Regions from separate parts of the Homo sapiens genome. Here region 2 is linked to region 1. The links come from fine-mapping of genetic effects on plasma protein levels. A gene starts in region 1. The other region holds a variant in brackets. All regions are shown on one strand. Distances are between the middles of the regions.

Evidence for each region. PIP is the posterior inclusion probability: the model's chance that the variant is causal. The UK Biobank Pharma Proteomics Project read protein levels with antibody pairs (Olink). The fine-mapping took linkage between variants from a reference panel, not from the people measured, so its PIPs are less certain.
Region 2: its variant is fine-mapped to the plasma level of the HSPG2 protein (UK Biobank, PIP 0.98).

Annotation. Positions count from the first base shown.
Region 1 is chr1:21,934,502-21,942,501 of GRCh38, reverse strand. It overlaps HSPG2 (heparan sulfate proteoglycan 2), which reads left to right and starts at 5,192. Exons shown (of 97, transcript NM_005529.7): 1 at 5,192-5,347. The coding sequence starts at 5,285. RefSeq lists a silencer at 4,804-5,153 and an enhancer at 5,901-6,742.
Region 2 is chr1:22,065,778-22,078,506 of GRCh38, reverse strand. CDC42 (cell division cycle 42) reads right to left here. Exons shown (of 6, transcript NM_001791.4): 2 at 1-78. The coding sequence starts at 28. It also overlaps the pseudogene MPHOSPH6P1. Among named protein-coding and RNA genes, the nearest start is that of CDC42, 19 kb to the right of the region's middle. RefSeq lists a silencer at 573-652. The variant C/T (reference allele first, on the strand shown) is at 1,443.

The DNA of each region.
Region 1 (8,000 bases):
AGATTTTAAAAGGATTTTCCATAAAAACCACTGGGTTCCGTTCTCAAAGAGGTTGAGGAAGGCTGGATTAAACACAGTTGCACAGGCGACTTCACTGGAGGCCTATTCAAAACCCTTCCTGCTTTGGTGTCCCTTGAGGTGGTCAAAGTGTGGGAAAGAGTGCAGGGTACCCAAACTTCTTTGGCCAAAGAACCTCTTTTTCAAAGAGCATCTCAGATTGCAGGTGACCCATGAGGCACAGTGTGGGAACCCTGCCTTGGGCCTGGGACCCCAGTCCAAGAAAGCAATTGATAATGATGAAGGGTAGTGGGGAAACATCAAGTTGGGGCAGGGGGTCAAATACAAGAGCTTTCAGAAGATTCACGCTTCTGCCTGAGCTGGGAGAAGCGCACTTGTGCCTGGCCAGAGTTGAGAACAGCCCACAGGGAGGCAGAATGGGTGTGGTTGAGAATGGGAGTTTGTAGAATCAGACCGACATGGACATGAATCCTGGTTCTACCTCTTACTGACTGCATGACCTGGGCAAGCCACTTCATCCCCTGGGCCTCAGTTTTCCCAGCTGGAAAGGGAGGGGAATAATAAAATGTACTGCCTTGCCTGCTCCCCAGGGTTTATCTTTGTTCCAAGCACAAACCAGAACAGGGACATTTACACTGTGTGCCACGTTTGAACTAATGTCTTGTTCTTTCATTTAAGTAACAATTATCCAAATGCCAACTCTGTGCCACACACTGTGCTCTTCACAGGGGATATAATTGGGACCAAGACAGAAACAAGACCTTCATGCCCTCTGCCTTCATTATGCCTCATAATATTAAATGATCTTCCAAATAATTACAATGGTCAAAAATGCTACAAGAAAAGCATGGCGGGGGGGGCGCTGTGGGAAAGTGTGGTGGGGAACACGACCTCGCTTGGGAGGTCAGAGAAGATTTCTGTGGTCATGTGATGTTTGGACTCAATCTTAAGGGAGAGTAGAGTGAAGGGGGATGGGTGTTAACTGGGAAAAGCACTTAGGAGAGGGAACAGCATCTGCAAAGACTATGGTGGGGAAGGGCTGTGGCTGGATTGATGGGCAGGACTAGATCATGCCAGGCCTTGTGGGGTCCCCGCCCTCTCCATGGGAACTTTTGCTGCCTGCTTAGACCCACCTCCTGCCTCCTCTTCCTCCTCTTCTTCAGTACTATCTTCTTGTTTTTTCTCCTCCATCTCAATTCTCTTTCACACCAATTTCTGACTCTTCATTTTCACCCAAGGACATATTGTTACTCTATTAGCATTTGTTTTCCCACATGGACATAGAAACTCTCGTGGGCAGTGTTTAGTTTCACTATTGAATGAATATAGGGCCACAGCTAGCCTTACAGTGCCTTCACTCATATCAGCAAAAAGTACCCATTCTGGGCCGGGTGCAGTGGCTCACGCCTGTAATCCCAGCACTTTGGGAGGCCGAGACGGGTGGATCACTTGAGGTCAGGAGTTCGAGACCAGCCTGGCCAACATGATGAAACCCTGTCTCTACTAAAAATACAAAAAATTAGCCAGGTGTGGTGGCATGTGCCTGTAATCCCAGCTACTTGGGAGGCTGAGGCAGGAGAATCGCTTGAACCCAGGAGGCAGAGGTTGCAGTGAGTTGAGATCGTGCCACTGCACTCCAACCTGGGCAACAGAGCAAGATTCTGTCTCAAAAAGAAAAAAAAAAGTACCCATTCTGGGCAGATGTAGCCCCACAACAGGGCCCATTACAGTTCCTATTTACCCACTTGGCTGCACACCTTTGTTCAGTGAACAACCTGCGCAACTGTCCACTGCAGCCCTGAATGAATGAATGAATGGACAAAGGAATGTGATTAAGATGAATGATAAGCTCTCAGGCAGAGAAAAGATTTGGAATGGGAGTGGAAGCCAGAAGATGAGTCCTACTGAATTTGGAGGAGTGGACAGGTAAGCCACAAACTCCAGCTGCTGGTTCCAGAACCCCCAACACCTATTCTCAGAAGTCAAGCTGTTTGACTATTTCTGCCTATCCAAGCTGTTGTAGTCTCTCCGTGCCCAGGGAACCTTGTATGAGACTTGAGTTGTTTCTCTCCTCGAGTGTGACCAGCACCCTGAACTCTGTGTACATACAGTGAGATTATGGGCGCCTCCAAGGTTTTGCCAAGCCCAGAAGGCCTTGTGCCTGCTCCTCTTCTTAGCCATATGAGGAGATAGCCAGGCTCTAGACAAAGCAACTTGAGAGCATTTGCTAAAGATATCAAGGACTGCAAACTAAAACAGACCCAGGCAAATCCCTTAGTGGGAAGGAGAGGACACAGAATAAATAGGTGGATGACCAATCCTCCGCTGCTGGAGCCGCCCTGGAAGACTTTCTCAACATGCCATATATTCCTGCTTTCTGCGTGTCAGCCCAGCTCCTTCCAGTCCCTAGTCGGCCTTACCATCTCTTTCCTCAACCCCTTTGAGGAAGGAAGACTTATAGCTCTGGGTTAGTCTTGACCAAACATCTACAAAGGGTTGCTTGTTTCCCTTTTTTTCCCCCTTTGCTCATGAGCAAATCATCCAAGAAGCCAAAGCTCTGGTACTTAAAGGGCCCGAGGTAGGGAACAGACACTGAGGCAGCTCATGAAATGCGATTTGTCACGGATGCTGACAAATCCATGGACAGGCAAGGCCTTGGAAAAATCCTGCCACTAGGGCTGGCCACCTGCCAGCTCTGAAGTCAGTGGAGTTTTGAAGCCTTTCTCATCGGACAGGGAGTTTCCAAGTGCAAACCTGGTGTACTCTCCCCTCAAATGGGAGGTCCCTGGGGTGGCTGTGGAGGCTGCTCCTCTATCAGACCTCAGCTCCCCAAGGGCCAAGTCATGTCTCTCTCTTTAGATTGGGAGCACACCAGAAATAGTAATAAGAGAAATGGCTACCACTTATTTCATGCTTACCAAGTGTCTGAAATGGCTGTGTTTTTTAAAAGAAATATATTAATTTATCTTAATTCTCATAACAACACTAAGAGAGACGTCTTAACGTTATTCTCATTTTCTACATGCAGAGACTGAGACATGGAAGTTGAATCATGTGCTCAAGATTGCACGGCTAGGTGGTGGAGGCAGGATTCTCTATCAGACTGAGAACAATACCCGGACAGGGACTATTCTTCCCCACACCTCTATCAGATTAAGAGTTTACTGAGGGCCAAGATTGGGCGTCCCTCCTCTGTCCACCCCTATCTCCCTGTGCGGATCAGAGATAGACCTTATTCAGTGCTGTGCCTGGAGCCTGGGTTGGGGCCAGGCAGTTGGCCTGACTACCGTGGATGCAATTTCTGTTCTTTACAACTCTGAGCTGGTCCCACAGAAATATGCCCCACAGGGCATATTTTGGAGATATCTTTTGGAGATAGGGGATCTATCTGGGATGGGGGTCAGGATGCCAGTGTTTTTTCAATCCCCCAGATGCCTGGATGAGAGGCCCCAATGTGCTTGGGAGCCTGCGGACCCCTATCACAGGGAACATAGCTTCCGGAGCCAGGCCTGGTGCCGCCCAGTGAGCTGGGCATTTCCTTCTGTCCACAGCTCACCTCACTCCTGGCTGCAAACCCAGCCATGAGTTTCTGGAACCTAGCAACTCTCACAGGAAACAATGGAAACTTCAGTTTTATTCTCCTCCTCTATCATTACTCAAAAGGTTTTCCTCAAAGCTACACACACATAGTTTTCCTCTCCACCCATCAGCCTCGGGCTGCCCTGGAAATTTCAGGCAGAAGAGGGGAGCTGAAGAGTAGGCAGTGAATAGGTCTGGGGGCTTGGTGCTGTTTGCTGCCTGCGGTTGGGTCAGAGACAGATCATGGGGCTGTGATTTTACCACCCACCCGAGCATCTGTGATGGGGCTTTGGCAGGGTCTGTCTGTCTGGGCCTGAGTGTGTGAGTTGGTGTGGTTCTGGCTCTGGGGCTGTGATTTATGTGACTCAAAGTTGGTGTGTGAGTGATTTACATGGAAAATGGTGCAGGTGGGGTGGGCAGCTCAGTTCAGTACCCAGTGCCCACTATGAGGCACTGTGATTAGTGGGTGAGAACAGGTAAAAGATACAGGCTGAGGCTGGGTGCGGTGGCTCAATGCCTGTAATCCCATCACTTTGGGAGGGCAAGGCGGGCAGATCACAAGGTCAGGAGTTCGAGACCAGCCTGGCCAACATGGTAAAAACCCCATCTCTATTAAAAATACAAAAATTAGCCAGGCGTGGTGGCACGCCTGTAATCCCAGCTATTCAGGAGGCTGAGGCCGGAGAATTGCTTGAACCCGGAGGCGGAGGTTGCAGTGAGCCAAGATCCCACCACCGCACTCCAGCCTGGGGACAGAGCGAGACTCCTTCTCAAAAAAAAAAAAAAAAAAAAAAACAAGCTGGTAAGCATGTAGGCAATGATGTGGGCCTGTGTGTGAAATGTGCGTGCCTGCGAGGAATCTATGTGAAAAGGCGTCCTCCCGCTCCGTGACTTGTTGGGATGTATGCGTGAGTGAGGGGCTGAGTGTGGTGTGAGGGCTGTCTCCTGTGTCCCTGGTGGAGGTGAGAGTTTGGAAGCGAGTTAAGTGTGCATGTGAGCCGGTGAGGATTGTTGGTACTTCAGAGTTGGGTCCAGAGTGTGAAAGTGTTCCCGGGTAGCGCACAAGTGTGTTCGTGCAGTAAAGTTATGGTGTGAAGGTGTTCTTGGGTGTGGAAGTTGGCGTGCACGTGTGGCGCGGAGCGGCAGCTGCGTGCGTGTGAGCGTGGGAAGGAGATCCCGGGATCTTCAAAAGCTGCGCGAGTGGAGTCGGCCGTGCGGGGCGTGCAGGGGCGTGGAAGTCGGCGGCGCGCGCGGGGAAGCGGGGGAGCCGGGGATCGGGGAGGCGAGAGCGCCTGGCCCGGCGGCCCCATCCCATGCCCGGGCCCGGGCCCCCGGTCCCCCGCCCCGTCCCATCCCATACTCCAGGCCGGGTTTGGCGGGGAGCCGGGCCGGGCCGCGGCCCGCGCGGAGGGGGCTGGGGGCCCAGACAAAGGCCTAGTAGGCTGCGCGGCCGGCTGGGGCGAGCAGAGCCCGCGGCCCGGGGGCGGTCCGTGGGCGGGGCCTGGCGCTCCGGGGAGGGGCGGTTCGGGGGCGGGGCCGGCGCTGCGGGGGCGGGGCGGGCGGGGAGGAAAGGGGGCGGTGGGGAGAGGGCCGCGCTGTCCCGAGCTGGCCGGCGAGCGGGCGGCTGCGGGCGGCGCGGAGCGGGCGGCGCGGAGCGAGCGAGCGAGAGAGCGGCGCGGGCCGGGCCATGGGGTGGCGGGCGGCGGGCGCGCTGCTGCTGGCGCTGCTGCTGCACGGGCGGCTGCTGGCGGTGAGTGTGCGGGGCAGAGGGGCGGGGGGCGGGGGCGGAGGGGCTAGGGGCGCCCCGGTCCCGCTCGCCGCCTCCCGCCAACTTGGCTGGGGCGCCCAAGGCTGCGCGGCGGGGACTCTGGCCCGGGACGGCGGCGCCCGCCGGGGACCCCGGGCCGGCGCCACCCTGCGGCATGGGGCTAATCCAGGGGGGCCACCAGTCAGGACCCTTCGTGGGGCTGGGGGCGGGGCTGGCCCGTGTGGGAGCCCGTGGGTCTCTCGGCCACGTTGCCGAGTGCTGGAGTCTCGCTGGGCATGGTCCGGCCTACCATTCCTGGGGACCAGGAGGGGAAACTTTGAGCAGGGTGGGAACTTGGCAGGACGAGGGAACCCTTCTGCGCCAGCTTGGCAGAACGGCCACTCAGTGGTGATGGGGACCCTATGAGTCTCGCTGAAACTTTACCACACCGTCTATCACCTTGGGGAGCTTGGACCCAGGTAGGCACAAGCAAAACTTTTGGGACAGAACTGAAGCTTGTGTGGAACACCCACGGGCCTTGGAGTCATACAGCCGAAGAGTTGAATCAATCCCTGCCTTTCACTGAGTAACTGTGTGACCTGGGGCACGCTAGTTAACCTCTCTGAGGCCAGCCCCACGTGGGTCAAGGGAACTCAAAATGCACGGCCTCAAAATGCATAGCTGCAGGGCGTTGCTGGACTGCGTGGAATGAGCTGCAAAGTGCGTGGTGCGGGGATGCAGTGCACCCTTGGGGGACCCGAGTTCCCCAGCTTTCCTCTTCCCAGGTCTCCAAGAGGCAGGGAGAGGCCTGCCCTTGCAGTCTAGTCCCCTACTCTGAGCTTAGGTGGAGGAAAAGGGAATTCTACGGTCAGGAATCCCGAGGCTTAGAAGGCACTTGGCCAGCAGAGGCCCTGAGGACCTGAGTGAACTTGAGGAGGACTGGGTGGGGTCGGTGGGCAGGGAGCTAGTGGCAGATGTGGGTGGGGGCACATCTGGGGAGCCGAGCCTACCGTGGGGAGCCACAGAGCCACCCCCACTCTCTCCGAGGTGCTCCTAGGCAGTCCCCATACCTGCCTCCCTGTTCTCTGAGCCAAGAGAGGGACTTTTCTAACCAGGCTGGTGTTTACCCAGGAACTGCCTGCCTGGCCTCACCTTCCTGGCTTCATCGCACCTCTACCCTCCTGAGTCACTCGTCAAGCCCCCACCCAGACCTGGCTCCTCACTGCTCTTGCCCCACCCACCCAGCACTTCTCCTCCCCCATCCCCACTCTGGGCAGCCTCCTCTGTCGTCCTCCTGTTTCAGCCTCTCACCCCAAAATATTCAGCAGGGCCATCCAGTAGCTCCCTAGTCTTGACCTGAACTTGCACTCCTGGCACTGACTTTTACTTTTCCCAACGCACCAACCTAGCACGTGGGATGTTTTCCGAGGCCCAACAGTCTTTCCTGACCTTCCCCCAGCTCTGCCCCCGATGAGGGGCTCCTCCATGCCCGGGTGCGGTAGGATGGCGGTGGGTGGAGTTGTTTGCTGTGTGCATGAGGAATTTCCACAGACATTCCTGGACCGTGGCAGATCATCTCATTCACTTGTTCATTCAACAGATCATCACTGAGCGACATTCCATGGCAGTCACTGGGAGTACAGAGGTTCATTCTTTGGGCAGATATTTGCCATGCACCTACTGTGTGCCAGTGAACCAGTGAACCTCGTGTGGTGCTAGGGGCTGGGGTGGGTTGGACCAGCAAGGACAGGCCCTGTCTGTGCCTTCCCAGCACTCACAGGCTGGTGGGCGGTAATTTAGACAAATAAACAGGCAGCTCCAATCCTGTGGGATTAGAGAGCCTTCTCAGCAACACATGGAGGGTCGCTGTCCCACCCCAGGCTGCTGGTGGTGGGCTGGAAAGAGCTTGGCCCCTGAAGTCTCTTTATAAAATTCTTTTTAAAAAGTTTTTCAGGCCAGGCGCGGTGGCTCATGCCTGTAATCCCAGCACTTTGGGAGGCCACGGTGGGCGGATCACGAGGTCAGGAGTTTGAGACCAGCCTGGCCAACATAGTGAAACCCCATCTGTACTGAAAATACAAAAATTAGACGGGTGTGGTGGCGCATGCTTGTAATCCCAACTACTCGGGAGGCTGAGGCAGGAGAATCGCTTGAACCCAGGAGGCGGAGGTTGCAGTGAGCTGAGACCACACCATTGCACTCCAGCCTGGGTGACAGAGTGAGACTCCGCCTCAAAACAAACAAACAATAAAAAGTTTTTCGGGGCCAGGCGCGGTGGCACACGCCAGTAATCCCAGGACTTTGGGAGGCCGAGGCGAGCGGATCATGAGGTCAGGAGTTCAAGATCAGCCTGGCCAGCATAGTGAAACCCTGTCTCTACTAAAAATGCAAAAAGTTAGCCAGGCATGGTGGCACGTACCTGTAGTCCCAGCTACTCCGGAGGCTGAGGCAGGAGAATGGCGTTAACCCGGGAGGCGGAGCTTGCAGTGAGCCGAGATCGCGCCACTGCACTCCAGCCTGGGCGACAGAGCAAGACTCTGTCTCAAAAAAAAAAAAAGAGGGCATCACACTTTGTTGCCCAGGCTGGTCTCAAACTCCTGGCCTCAAGCGATCCTCTCGCCTCGGTCTCCTAAAGTGTTGGGATGACAGGCATAAG
Region 2 (12,729 bases), 130 kb before region 1:
CCACAACAACACACTTAATTGTCTGCATTGCTGAAATAGTTTTGTATCCACTTTAAATATTTCAAATCTGATGATGACCTGCAAAAAGATTAAAGACATTTGTTTATTTATACTTACATATGGATTTTTCTTCCTCACTTAGCAACAGGTTCAGGCACTCAGAGCAAGAAAAGAACTAGCACAATTATTATGGCTAAAAGAACCCAATAAGAGACACAATGACTTGCTATAAGTTACAATAACAAATAAGGTCCATTTCTAAGTTTCTGATCCCTGGCTATTCCAACTTCTTAAGTGTTATTTTTAAAAGGTCCAAAGTGGTGTGATAATCAGCGAATTTATTTTTATCATGAAAGAGAAGAGGCTGTATCAGAGAAAATTCCACAGTGTGCTAAATATTATTTTGTGAAAGCTGTTCTTCAGTTACACGTGCACACACACCTGTATGTATGCATGTATGTCAACTAGACTGCAATACAAAGGCCACTGCTTTAAAGAATGGTTCATGATCCAGCCTTATTCAGCCTTACTCAGGCTCTGACCAACAAGCAGCAGAGCACCACACGATCACACGGTAATTATATGAGTAACGTGAGGAACTGAACAAAGAACAGGGTGATCGCTGGCCTCAGCAGCTGTTTTAGCACCAGAATGCCTAGTCCAAAACCTACATTTTTATAATGAAAAAGTCAGATTGCTCTAAAGCATACTGACTTATAAACAGATACTATAGCTTCTCTTACTAGAGTCCTCCTCCATTTTAAGAAGCTATCAATTACAAGTACCAAAGAGTCATTAATTTGAGATGCTTTTTTTCATGTTAACATCTCTAAAGTCAGAATGTATCTTTGAGTCTCTTAGAATCATTATCAGCCATTTTTCCCCCACATTTTGACTTCTATGAAATTGGAATCTTAGATTCAATGAAATACTTTAACAGTTTTCTGAAAGAATAAAAAGAAACACCACCCAATATGTACCTAAATTTTAAGATTTATATTTAAATTAATTTAAATTATAATCCTAAAGGGGTTATAATTAAACATAAAAATACAGAACCACCTAACTCTTGGTCAGATGCCACCATGCTCCTATAGCACCATTCACAACAATTAATCATAACAATTTATAAATGCCTATTAACATCCCTGTAAATGAACCTATACTACCTCATGCACCACTATACTTCTAGCACTGAGCACTTCTAGACTGACACACTGTGAGTTGTTGATTGGATGCAAAAATCACGAAACAAAAGAACATGAAACTACATTAGTGTGAGTAACTCACATGAAATATACACTCTCCCGCTCCTCATCAAAATTATCTGCAGTATATTTTTCTTTTTTTTAGACAGGGTTTTACTCCCGTCACCCAGGCTGGAGTGCAGTGGCACAACCTCAGCTCACTGCAACCTCCACCTCCCAGACTCAAGCAATCCT[C/T]CCACCTTGGCCTCCCAAGTAGCTGGAACCACAGACGCATGCCACCATGCCCGGCTGGGTTTTTGTTTGGTTTTTGTTTTTTTAAGAGACGGGTCTCACTGTTACCCAGGCTGGTCTTGAATTCCTGGACTCAAGCAATCCACTCACCTCGGCCTCCCAAAGTCCCAGAGTGCTGGGATTACATGCATGAGCCACCGCAGCCAGCCATATTTATCCTTCTTTATTCAACTTCCTTTTATATCTCCTTTTTCCTTCTCCTTTCCCTTTTATGCACTAAGAAGCACCCATACTAACTAATACAGCATTAAAGATTAACAACCCTGATCCCTAAGATCAATCAATTACTGGTTAAATCTAAAAGCACTCAAATAATAATAGTAAGCAGCAAACACTCATACAGCATTTACTAAGTGCTATGTACTGTTCAAAACATATTACACATATTCACACATTTCATCCTCCCAAAAAGCCTATGAAGTATGTGCTGTATTATCCCTATTTTACAGATAAGAAGAGTGAGGCTCAGCAAGTAACTAAGCCAAGGCTATTCAGCCAGTAACTGGGAGAACTGTAATTTAAACCCAAGCAGTCTGACTCTCAAGTCCCTGCTTGTTGTGTGTGTGTGTGTGTGTATGTGTCAGTGCAGTGGCGTGATCTCTGCTCACTGCAACCTCTGCCTCCCGGGTTCAAGCGATTATCCTGCCTCAGCCTCCAGAGCAACTGGGATTACAGGTGCATGCCACCACGCCTGGATAATGTTTGTATTTAATAGAGACAGGGTTTCACCATGTTGGCCAGGCTGGTCTTGAACTCCTGACCTCAAGTAATCCAACTGCCTGGGCCCCTCAAAGTGCTAGGATTACAGGTGTGAGCCACCGTGCCCAACCTCAAGTCCCTGCTCTTGATAAACATTACATTACACTATACTGTCTGAGAAGTGACATTAATAAAAACAAATATAATCAGTGCTAGTGGAATGACAAGTATATATCCGTGAGTTACCAGCAATGCAAAGAGGAAAGCAAATATAAAGAAGAGGAAGCAAAAAATAGGGGCTAAGCTTATTTCCTGTTTTTCACCCTGCATATAACTACTGAATTTTATTGGGAGAAGGGAGTAAGATAAGAGTTTGTTCTTCCCCTTTCTATTTACCCACAAATCTTCCACTTCTTAGACTTCCCGACCTGACTGCTCTGCAATTTGTTACAAACTGGTTGGTTGTGAGTCCCCTGTTAAGCCTGGGTTCTGGAGTCAGAGTGGCTCTACCACACTCTAGCTATTCAACCTCTGTGTTATTCAACCTCTGTGTAGCTTGGTTTCCCCTTCTCTAAAAATGAAAACAGTACTACCTTTCTCATAAGGTAAACTAAGATAATACATGTAAAGAACTTGCAACAGTGCTTGGCATACAGTACATGCTTAGTACATGTTAATTATTAGTCTTTAACAAGTAATGGTAACTTTAAAGTCAATATAAGGAATTTTAAAACAGCAATTCCAAACTTCTTAGAAAGGAACTCATAACACTTTTTATCTCCAAGATAATTACAGTACAGTCAGCCCTCCATGTACACAGAGGCAGAACCCACAGATACAGATGGATAACTGTACTATGTAATTTTATATAAGAAACTTGAGCATTCCAGGATTGTTGTATCCTTGGAGAGTTCTGGAATCAATCCCCTGCAATATCAAGGGAAGATTATACTAATTGTTCTCAGCACAAATGTAGTCAAATGTAGAGTTACCATTACAAAGATGGTCATTTCAGAGTCAAGTTCTAATTAAGACTATTCTGCAAAGCATTTGGCATGTATTAATAATTGTTTCATGTGTTAAATAAAAACTATAGGAGGCTACCGTTGTGGACTAATCTCCTGCACTAGGCCCCAAGTGACCAGACTAAAAATCAAAACGGAGTTACTCATGCTAAAGTTTCACATCACTAAACTTAAATTTAGTTGTTATCTGACCTTCTGAGAAACAGGAGAGATGACAGCCAGTTTACCAAACAGGCCACTTTCAATCTTCAATTGGAATGATAATGAAGTTCCCTCTGCTTTAACCCTTACACAAAAAAAAGCAGCCTGAAGTAACCTGATATTAACTAATCAGTTATTTTTCTATTGTTCTGTCTTCTCCCTGTCCCTGCCTTACAAGAAAGGTAGCTCTGAAACAACTAATAGGCCCTTTGTTCTTTGCTTCCCCTTTCCTCAGCTCTTCTATTAAGCCAACCTCTTCTGCTCAACTCTGTTTTGTGGAATGAAGCACACTGCCCAACTCTAAAATCACAATAAAGCCAAGTGAGATTTAAATTTGTTGTAGTTTTGCCCTTTAACACATGTATTAAAGAGCACAGTGGCTCACCTGTAATCCTTGCACTTTGGGAGGCCAAAGTGGGAAGATCACTAGAGCTGAGGAGTTCAAGACCAGCCTGGGCAACATAGTTAAGACCTGACCTCTATTTCTTTTTTTCTTAATTTTTTTTCTTAATGTCACCAGATACTCCACAGATTGGGGTGGGTAAAGGGAGCAATCAGGGGAGAGACTTTGGGTTTTACAATATATATAAGTCAGACATGTTCATATACCCTATGTTAATCTCCTATTAAATAATGTCAAATCACTACGGCAGCAAAGAGGCCACATAGAAACAATTACCATTCTGCTAACCAGAAAAGTTATTCTGCGCTGGGCACGGTGCCTCATGCCTGTAATCCCAGCACTCTGGGAGGCCGAGGCAGGCAGATCACAAGGTCAGGAGATGGAGACCATTCTGGCTAACACGGTGAAACCCCATCTCTACTAAAAATACAAAAAATTAGCTGGGCATGGTGGCACGCACCTGTAGTCCCAGCTACTCAGGAGCCTGAGGCAGGAGAATCGCTTGAACTCGGGGGGCAGAGGCGCACTGCAGTGAGCCAAGATGGCGCCACTGCACTCCAGCCTGGGCAACACAGTGAGACTCCGTCTCAAAAAAGAAGAAAGAAAAAGAAAAGCTAAGTTATTTTGCACCAATAACTGAATCCTACCTCTTTTTAACAGTGAAGTTCATTTGTACCACAACTTAGAATTGGGGTTGGGCAACTTACAGCATAAAAAATGATTCTGCAGGGTCAGGCATGGTGGCTCACACCTGTAATCCCAGCACTTTGGGGGGACAAGGTGGGGAGATTGCTTGAACCCAGGAGTTTGGGACCAGCCTGGGAAACAGAGTGAGACCCCATCTCTACAAAAAAAAAAATTAGCTGGGTGAAGTGGCACACACCTGTAGTCCCAGTTACCAGGGAGGCTGAGGTGGGAGGATTGCTTGAGTCCAAGGCTGCAGTTGGCTATGATTGTGCCACTGCCCTCCAGGCTGGATGACAGAGCAAGACCCTGTCTCAAATATTTTTTTTAAAATGATTCTGCCAATCATAAGGAAATAAAATTGTGAAATAAGGTATATCTTCCTTCTGTCCTTCCTGGCATCTACCCCTCCAATACCCATATCTTCTAGGTTTTTTATTTTTCTTTTTTTTTTTTTGAGACAGAGTTTTGCTCTGTCACCCAGGCTGGAGTGCAATGGCGTGATCTCGGCTCACTGCAACCTCCGCCTCCAGGGTTCAAGCGATTCTCCCACCTCAGCCTCCCAAGTAGCTGGGATTACAGGCACGCACCACCATGTCTGGCTAATTTTTGTATTTTTTTAGTAGAGACGGGGTTTCGCCACATTGGCCAGGCTGGTCTCAAAATCCTGACCTCAGGTGATCCACCCACCTCAGCCTCCCAAAGTGCTGGGATTACAGGCACGAGCCATTGCACCTGGCCTCTTCCAGGTTCTTAACACTATGGGAATTCAAATATCCTTTAAGAATCTCAGAGCTATAGCACCTGAAATTTTAAGTCCACACACTACAGATTTTAAAAGGTTATGGAACCCTCTCTATGGTATCATTATGATTGGCTGGCTGCCATCTAAACTCCACCAGACAATCCCTGAGCAAACGATCTGTATGGAGGAAGGGGATACTCCCAGCTACAAATGCCCTATTTTCCCGTGCCCCATGGTTCATTCTAGGCACAGAGAGACAGCAACCTTAAGATTTGAGATTAAATATTTGCTAGTAAGTTTTACAAAAAATTTATATTCTCAATAAGATTACACCTCTTTTAAAACTATGTCAAGTATTAATAGTAACTGTGAATAAAAGGCAAGTCAAATTTTTGGTAATACACCAAATATTTGGCAATATTTGGTTTCCGTCCCCACTTCCTAGCAGAGAGCTCCTAAAAACCCTAGGAATTTCCTGAGTGCTGAGTGTCTCTTGTTTTTCATAACAAATTCACACCTGAATTTATGTTAATAAAGTGACAGGGTGGCGGTGGAAGGGATGCTAGGAAGCCTCAGGATGGGGCTGGTCACCAGAAAGGCAAAGTGACTAGAGGGATGTAACTTTCAGCCCCATGCACCAACCTCCAGAGAGGGGAGGAGGGCTAGAAACTGAGCTCTATGAAAACTCCAGAACAGAAGATTTGGAGAGCTTCCAGGTCTGTGAACATTTCAAGGTGAGGGGAAAGCAGGTCACCTGAATCCCTCCCCACCCACAACCGTGCCCTATGTATCTCTTCCATTTGGCTGTTCGTGAGTTGTACCCTTTATGACAAAGGCATAAAGGTAAGTAAAACGGCCAGGCACGGTGGTTCAAGCCTGTAATCCCAGCACTTTGGGAGGCCGAGGCGGGCAGATCATGAGGTCAGGAGATCGAGACCATTCTGGCTAACATGGCGAAACCCCGACTCTACTAAAAATACAAAAAATTAGCCAGGCGTGGTGGCAGGCGCCTGTAGTTCCAGCTACTCGGGAGGCTGAGGCAGGAGAATGGCATGAACCTGGGAGGCAGAGCTTGCAGTGAGCTGAGATCACGCCACTGTACTCCAGCCTGGGCAACAGAGCGAGACTCCATCCCAAAAAAAAAAAAAAAAAAAAAAAAGGTAAGTAAAACGTTTTCCTGAGTTCTATGAGTTGTTCTAGCTAATAATCAAACCTAAGAAGGGCCATGGGAATCCCAAAATTTGTAGTCTACTGGGCAGAGGTATAGGTAGCCTAGGCACTGCATTTGTAGCTGCTGCCTAAAGTGAGGGCAGTCTTCCAAGACTGAGCCCTTAAGCTGTGGGGTGGGAGTATCAGAATTAAACTGTTAGTATCAGAACTGAATTTTCTTTTTCTGACACCACATTCACTCTAATCCAAAACACACTAAAAGTAAAGTTGCCTTCATGTGAAATACGTTTGCCCCTGAAGTAACCCATTTTCATACTTAGGATACAAGAAAGAAGAGGCACTACAGGAATCAAGAGAATGACCCAATTTCACAATCTTCCTTATCAGTTCAACAGAAGGACTAGTCTGGTTGTAGGATTAAACAGAATAAAATCAAAACTACTTGTCTCTCCTGTCAAATCCAGCCACTTTGGAAAATGCAGCTTATATAACCTTCTGCTGTAAGTTATAGTAGCATATCTAACGTACAATTTTTTAAACACCTACCCATGCATGTGATTTTTAGGCAACCAAAAGTACTCAAACCACAGCAATGTATTCCATGCATTCACACACGTATGCAAGTGTGCTAACAAACTGTCTTGTTTGCAGAACTTCTTGTTTGCTTCTATATCACAGAAGACATGTAACAAAAAGCATACAGCTGGCCTTATATGTTTGTTAGAAATGCTTGTTCCGACCGGGTGCGGTGGCTCACACCTGTAATCCCAGCACTTTGGGAGGCCGAGGCGGATGGATCACGAGGTCAGGAGATCGAGACCATCCTGGCTAACATGGTGAAACCCCGACGCTACTAAAAATACAAAAAAATTAGCCGGGCGTGGTGGCAGGCGCCTGTAGTCCCAGCTACTCGGGAGGCTGAGGCAGGAGAATGGCGTGAACCCGTGAGGCAGAGCTTGCAGTGAGCCGAGACCGCGCCACTGCACTCCAGCCTGGGCAACAGAGCGAGACTCCATCTCAAAAAAAAAAAAAAAGAAAGAAAAAAAAAGAAATGCTTGTTCCTCAGTGCCGTAAAGAAATAGCACTTGAACATAAATTTAATTTTCTCAGCAAGGCCATTTATACCTTCTGCAGAAAGGATACACTTGCCAGCAGTTTTGCCACAAAAGTACACCGAGCAAAGGAGACAGGGTCATTTATAACCTGACGTGTCTATCCTACTGCTGTGTCCGGTTTTTATTGGCTGGAACGGGACCTCACGTTTTGTATTTGTCCTGATAGGCTAGCAACTTACAACTTTTAAAAAGAGGCAAAGAAGGCCAGGCGTGGTGGCTCACGCCTGTAATCCCAGCATTTTGGAAGGCCGAGGCAGGCGGATCACGAGGTCAAGAGATCAAGACCAGCCTGGCTAACACAGTGAAACCCTGCCTCTGTTAAAAATACAAAAAAATCAGCTGGGCGTGGTGGTGGACGCCTGTAGTCCCAGCTACCTGGGAGGCTGAGGCAGGAGAATGGCATGAACCTAGGAGGCGGAGCTTGTAGTGAGCCAAGATCATGCCACTGCACTCCAGCCTGAGCAACAGAGCGAGACTCTGTCTCAAAAAAAAAAAAAAAAAAAAAAAAAAAAAAAAAAAAAAGAGGCAAAGGCAGAGGACAACAAAGGAAGGAGGAAGTAACTTGTGGAATGCTGAGAAAGGTAAAAATACCTTTAAACAGGCTATGACCTAATGCTTGCTTGGACCAGTATAAGCATGCCAGGGCAAATATTTAGGCTAAATTGTGGGAGCTAAGAACATAAAGTACACTGATTTATTTATTACAGCTAGCAGATATTTAAGAATGTTAGCAAAGGTCTTTGAATAAATTTTGCTTTTAAGAGAAGTTACTATTTATTTCTGATTAGATGTGGGGGAAGTCTTTGAAGAGGAATCTCTACTTTACTTTTTACATGTTCAATTAAGAATACAACATTGCTTAGAAAATCCTACCCAGAGGCTGGGCACAGTGGCTCAAGCCTACAATCCCAGCACTTTGAGAAGCCAAGGAAGGTGGATTGCTTGAGGCCAGGAGTTTGAGAACAACCTAGGCAACGTGGCAAAACTGCGTCTCTACCAAAAATACAAAAATTAGCTGGGCATGGTGGCATGCGCCTGTGGTCCCAGCTACTTGGGAGGCTGAAGATCATCCGAGCCCAGGAGACGGAGGTTGCAAGTAAGCCAAGATTATGCCACTGCACTCCAGCCTGGGCAACACAGGGAGATGCTATCTCAAAACAACAACAACAAAAACAAACAAACAAAAAAACCTCTACCAAGGCTGGGTGTGGCGGCTCACGCCTGTAATCCCAACACTTTGGGAGGCCAAGGCAGGAGGATCACTTGAGCCCAGCAAATCAAGACCAGCTTGGGCAACATGACAAAATCCCATCTCTACAAAAAATTAAAAAAAAAAAAAAAAAAAAAAAAAAGTGGTGGCATGTGCCTGTAGTCCCAACTACTGGGGAGGCTGAGGGGAGAAACCACCTGAGCCAGGAAGGTCAAGGCTACAGTGAGCTGTAGTCACACCACTGCACTCCAGCCTGGGTAAGAGAACAAGACCCTGTTTCGGCCAAGCGTGGTGGCTCACGCCTATAATCCCAGCACTTTGGGAAGCTGAGGCGGGCAGATCACTTGAGGTCAGGAGTTCGAGACCAATCTGGCCAACATGGTGAAACCCAGTCTCTACCAAAAATACAAAAATTTGCCAGGTGTGATGGCGCTCACCTGTAGTCCCAGCTATTTGGGAGGGTGAGGCAGGAGAATTGCTTGAACCCAGGAGGCAGAGGTTGCAATGAGCCGTGATTGTGCCACTGCACTCCAGCCTGGGGACAGAGTGAGATTCTGTCTCAAAAAAAAAAAAAAAAAAAAAAAAGGAATAAAATGGAGATTACAATAAGATGTTTTCCTCAAAATACTCAAGACTTGTAGATCTACTCATTCATCTACTCATTCATTCAACAAGCCTTTACTAAGTACCTACCACGTGCCAAGCTTTGTCCTATACGTAGGCACACCCCACAATTCACATAACAAAGTTCACGCCCTCTTGGAGCAACAATTCCAGTGGGGTACACAGACAATAAACAAGCATCACCCCCTACATATTCTTCCTTCAATAATACTACCAACTGACATCCTTACATGTAACTTTCTCATTCTAGTCTCTTAACTAAGAAACAGCAGGTGGCCAGAACACAGCACAAGCTGAAGCCAGCATGGCACCTGAGCACAAGACCAAGTTCTCCAAGAACCTGCTGTACATGAAGTTCATGCAAAGAAGACTGGACTCAGAAACTAAGAAATGACTAGAAGAGGAAGAAAATAAAATTAGTTAAGAGCACTGGTACTCAGATTTGCCAGAGCTTAATAAGTAAAGAATTTCATAACAGAAGAGCAGCATCTCTTGTTATGTGAAGATCATTTCTATGGAAGGAATTTCATTCATCAGATTTACTCCTGAGGTTGAGAAATTAGTGCTTCAGGTGAATACTAAGAACAAAGCAGAAATTGAAGATGAAACAGTGGAATTTTACGTGTCAGATGAAGAAGAAATGGCTAGAAGAAATGGCTAGAATATGAGACCTTGGTGGGGACAACAGGAAAAAAGTCTGCCAAAAAGGGAGATCAAGCCAATTATGAAGACAATGAAAATGGAGACCTACAACTAATTAAAGCAAAGAAAATGTTCTTAAAGCCCCGGGATCAAAATACAGAACTTAAGAGATGGCTCAGAGATGCCTTGTGAAAGTTAGCAGCATGTTTTGTAACTAGTTCTGATGGTGCCTCTATAGTTATTAATACTATAACGTTTATTTGTAAAGAGATGTATAATTTTGGAAACATGCTGTTTTTGAAACAGATGTGTAATGGATGTCATACATCCTCTGCTAAATGGTACTGAGTGGATTTTTAGCCCTTGATCTTCAAATATACAGGTTTCCTAAAGATTTTTTTTGTTTTTGAGACAGGGTCTCACCCTGTCACCTAGGCCAGAGTGGAGTGGCTCAATCACAGCTCACTGCAGCGTCAACCTTCCTGGGCTCAAGGGATCCTCCCATCTCAGCCAAATCTTGGGTGTCTGGCCTTACAACTCACCCTATTTTCAAGCTACCCTTCCACTACAAAACCTCTCCTTCTCTGAGACCTTTCCTAACTAGTCTAGGTATTGAAACTGCCCCAACCGCCTGACCACCTGCTATGTTTGTGTCCCAAAATTCATAAGCTGACACCTGATCACCAGTGTGACGTTGTTAGAAGGTGAGACTGCTGGGAGGTGATTAGGTCCAGAGGGCAGAGTCCCCTCATCCCCAAATGGGATTAGTGGCCTTATAAGACACCCCAGAGAGCTCCCCTACCCCTTGCACCATGCAAGAAGACACAGCAAAAAGGAACAAACTGGTATGGGCGCAGTGGCTCAGGCCTGTAAACCCAGCACATTGAGAGGCCGAGGCAGGCGGATCATCTGAGGTCAGGCGTTCGAGACCAGCCTGGCCAACTTGGTGAAACCCTGTCTCCACTAAAAATACAAAAATTAGCCGGTGGCGCATGCCTGTAACCCCAGCTACTCAGGAGGATCGCTTGCTTGGGAGGTAGAGGTTGCAGTGAGCTGAGAGCACCAAAGCGAACTTGGGAGGCGGAGGTGGGAGTGAGCTAAGATCACCACTGCACTCCAGCCTGGGAAACAGAGTGAGACCGTCAAAAAAAGAAAAAGAAGAAAAGAAAAAACCAGCATCTATGAACCACAAAGCAGGCCCTCACCAAACATCAAATACGCCAGCACCCCAATATTGTCCTTCCCAGGATGCAGAACTGTGATAAGTTTCTGTCGTTTACAAGCTACCCAGTCTATGGTATTGTTAAAGAAGCCTAAACGGACTAAACAGAACCCATGGCAAGGCCCTTCTTCTTGCCTTCTCAAACCTTCTCATGCTCCGTTCCCCTGTACTCTCCATGCTCTAGCTACACAGGTCTCTTACCTCCCCAGACGTGCCAGGCTCTGTCCTGCCTTCAGGTCTTTTTTGGCCCAATCTCTGCTCACCACAACCTCCGCCTCCCAGGTTCAAGCGATTTTCCAGCCTCAACTTCCTGAGTAGCTGGAATTACAGGCATGTGCCACCACACCCGGCTAATTTTGTATTTTTAGTAGAGACGGGGTTTCTCCATGTTGGTCAAGCTGGTCTCAAACTCCCAACCTCAGGTGATCCGCCCACCTCGGCCTCCCAAAGTTCTGGAATTACAGGTGTGAGCCACTGCACCCGGCCATGCCTTGAAGTCTTTACCAACAACACTCCTGCCCCTGCTCTTAAAGCTTTTGGCTTCTCACTCTCCAGATCTCAGCTCGAATCATCATCTCCTCCAAAAGTCCTCCCCTGACCACATTATCCAGGGCAATAGTACCCTCCCTCCTTACACTCCTTTCATATTACCTTATTTCCTTTATTGTAAGGTCATAATCTATAATTATCTTGTTTATCTGTCATATGGCAGTAGAAACAGACTTTTAAAAATAAGGAAATCTCCATAAAGGTAATAACTGCTGTATGCCCACAAAATAGCTCAATACCAGTCACACAGGACACACTCACCGAATAAATGAATCACAGGAGTAATTAACCATGTTATTTTTAGTCACATATGCTTACTTTATTCTAATAGATTTTTTTTTTTGGAGACAGGGTATCACTCTGTCACCTAAGCTGCAGCACAGTGGCGCAATTTCAGCTTACTGCAACGTCTGCCTCCCACGCTCAAGCGATTCTCCTGCCTCAGCCTCCCAAGTAGCTGAGACTACAAGCATGCACCACCTCACCTCACCCAGCCCCTCTAATAGATTTTAAGCTCTCTGAGAGAACAACTAGGCTTATACTTCTTTATTCCCCGTCCCAATGCAGCCAATACAATACTGAACAGTATATTAAGGGCAAGAAAAAATAAAATTCTTAAATGTCTTTTACAACTTTGTTGACTAAAGTAGTAATATGAAAAAAACGCCCAGGCACAGAGGCCTGTAATCCCAACACTTTGGGAGGCCAAGGTGGGTCAATTATTTGAGGTCAGCAGCTCAAGACAAGCCTAGCCAACATGGTGAAATCCCGTCTCTGCTAAAACTACAAAAAATTAGCCAGGCATGGTGGCGCACACCTGTAATCCCAGCTACTCGGGAGGCTGAGGCTTGAGAATCGCTTGAACCCGGGAGGAGGTTGCAGTGAGCTGAGATCATGCCACTGCACTCCAGCCTGGTTGACAGAGACTCTGACCCCTCCCC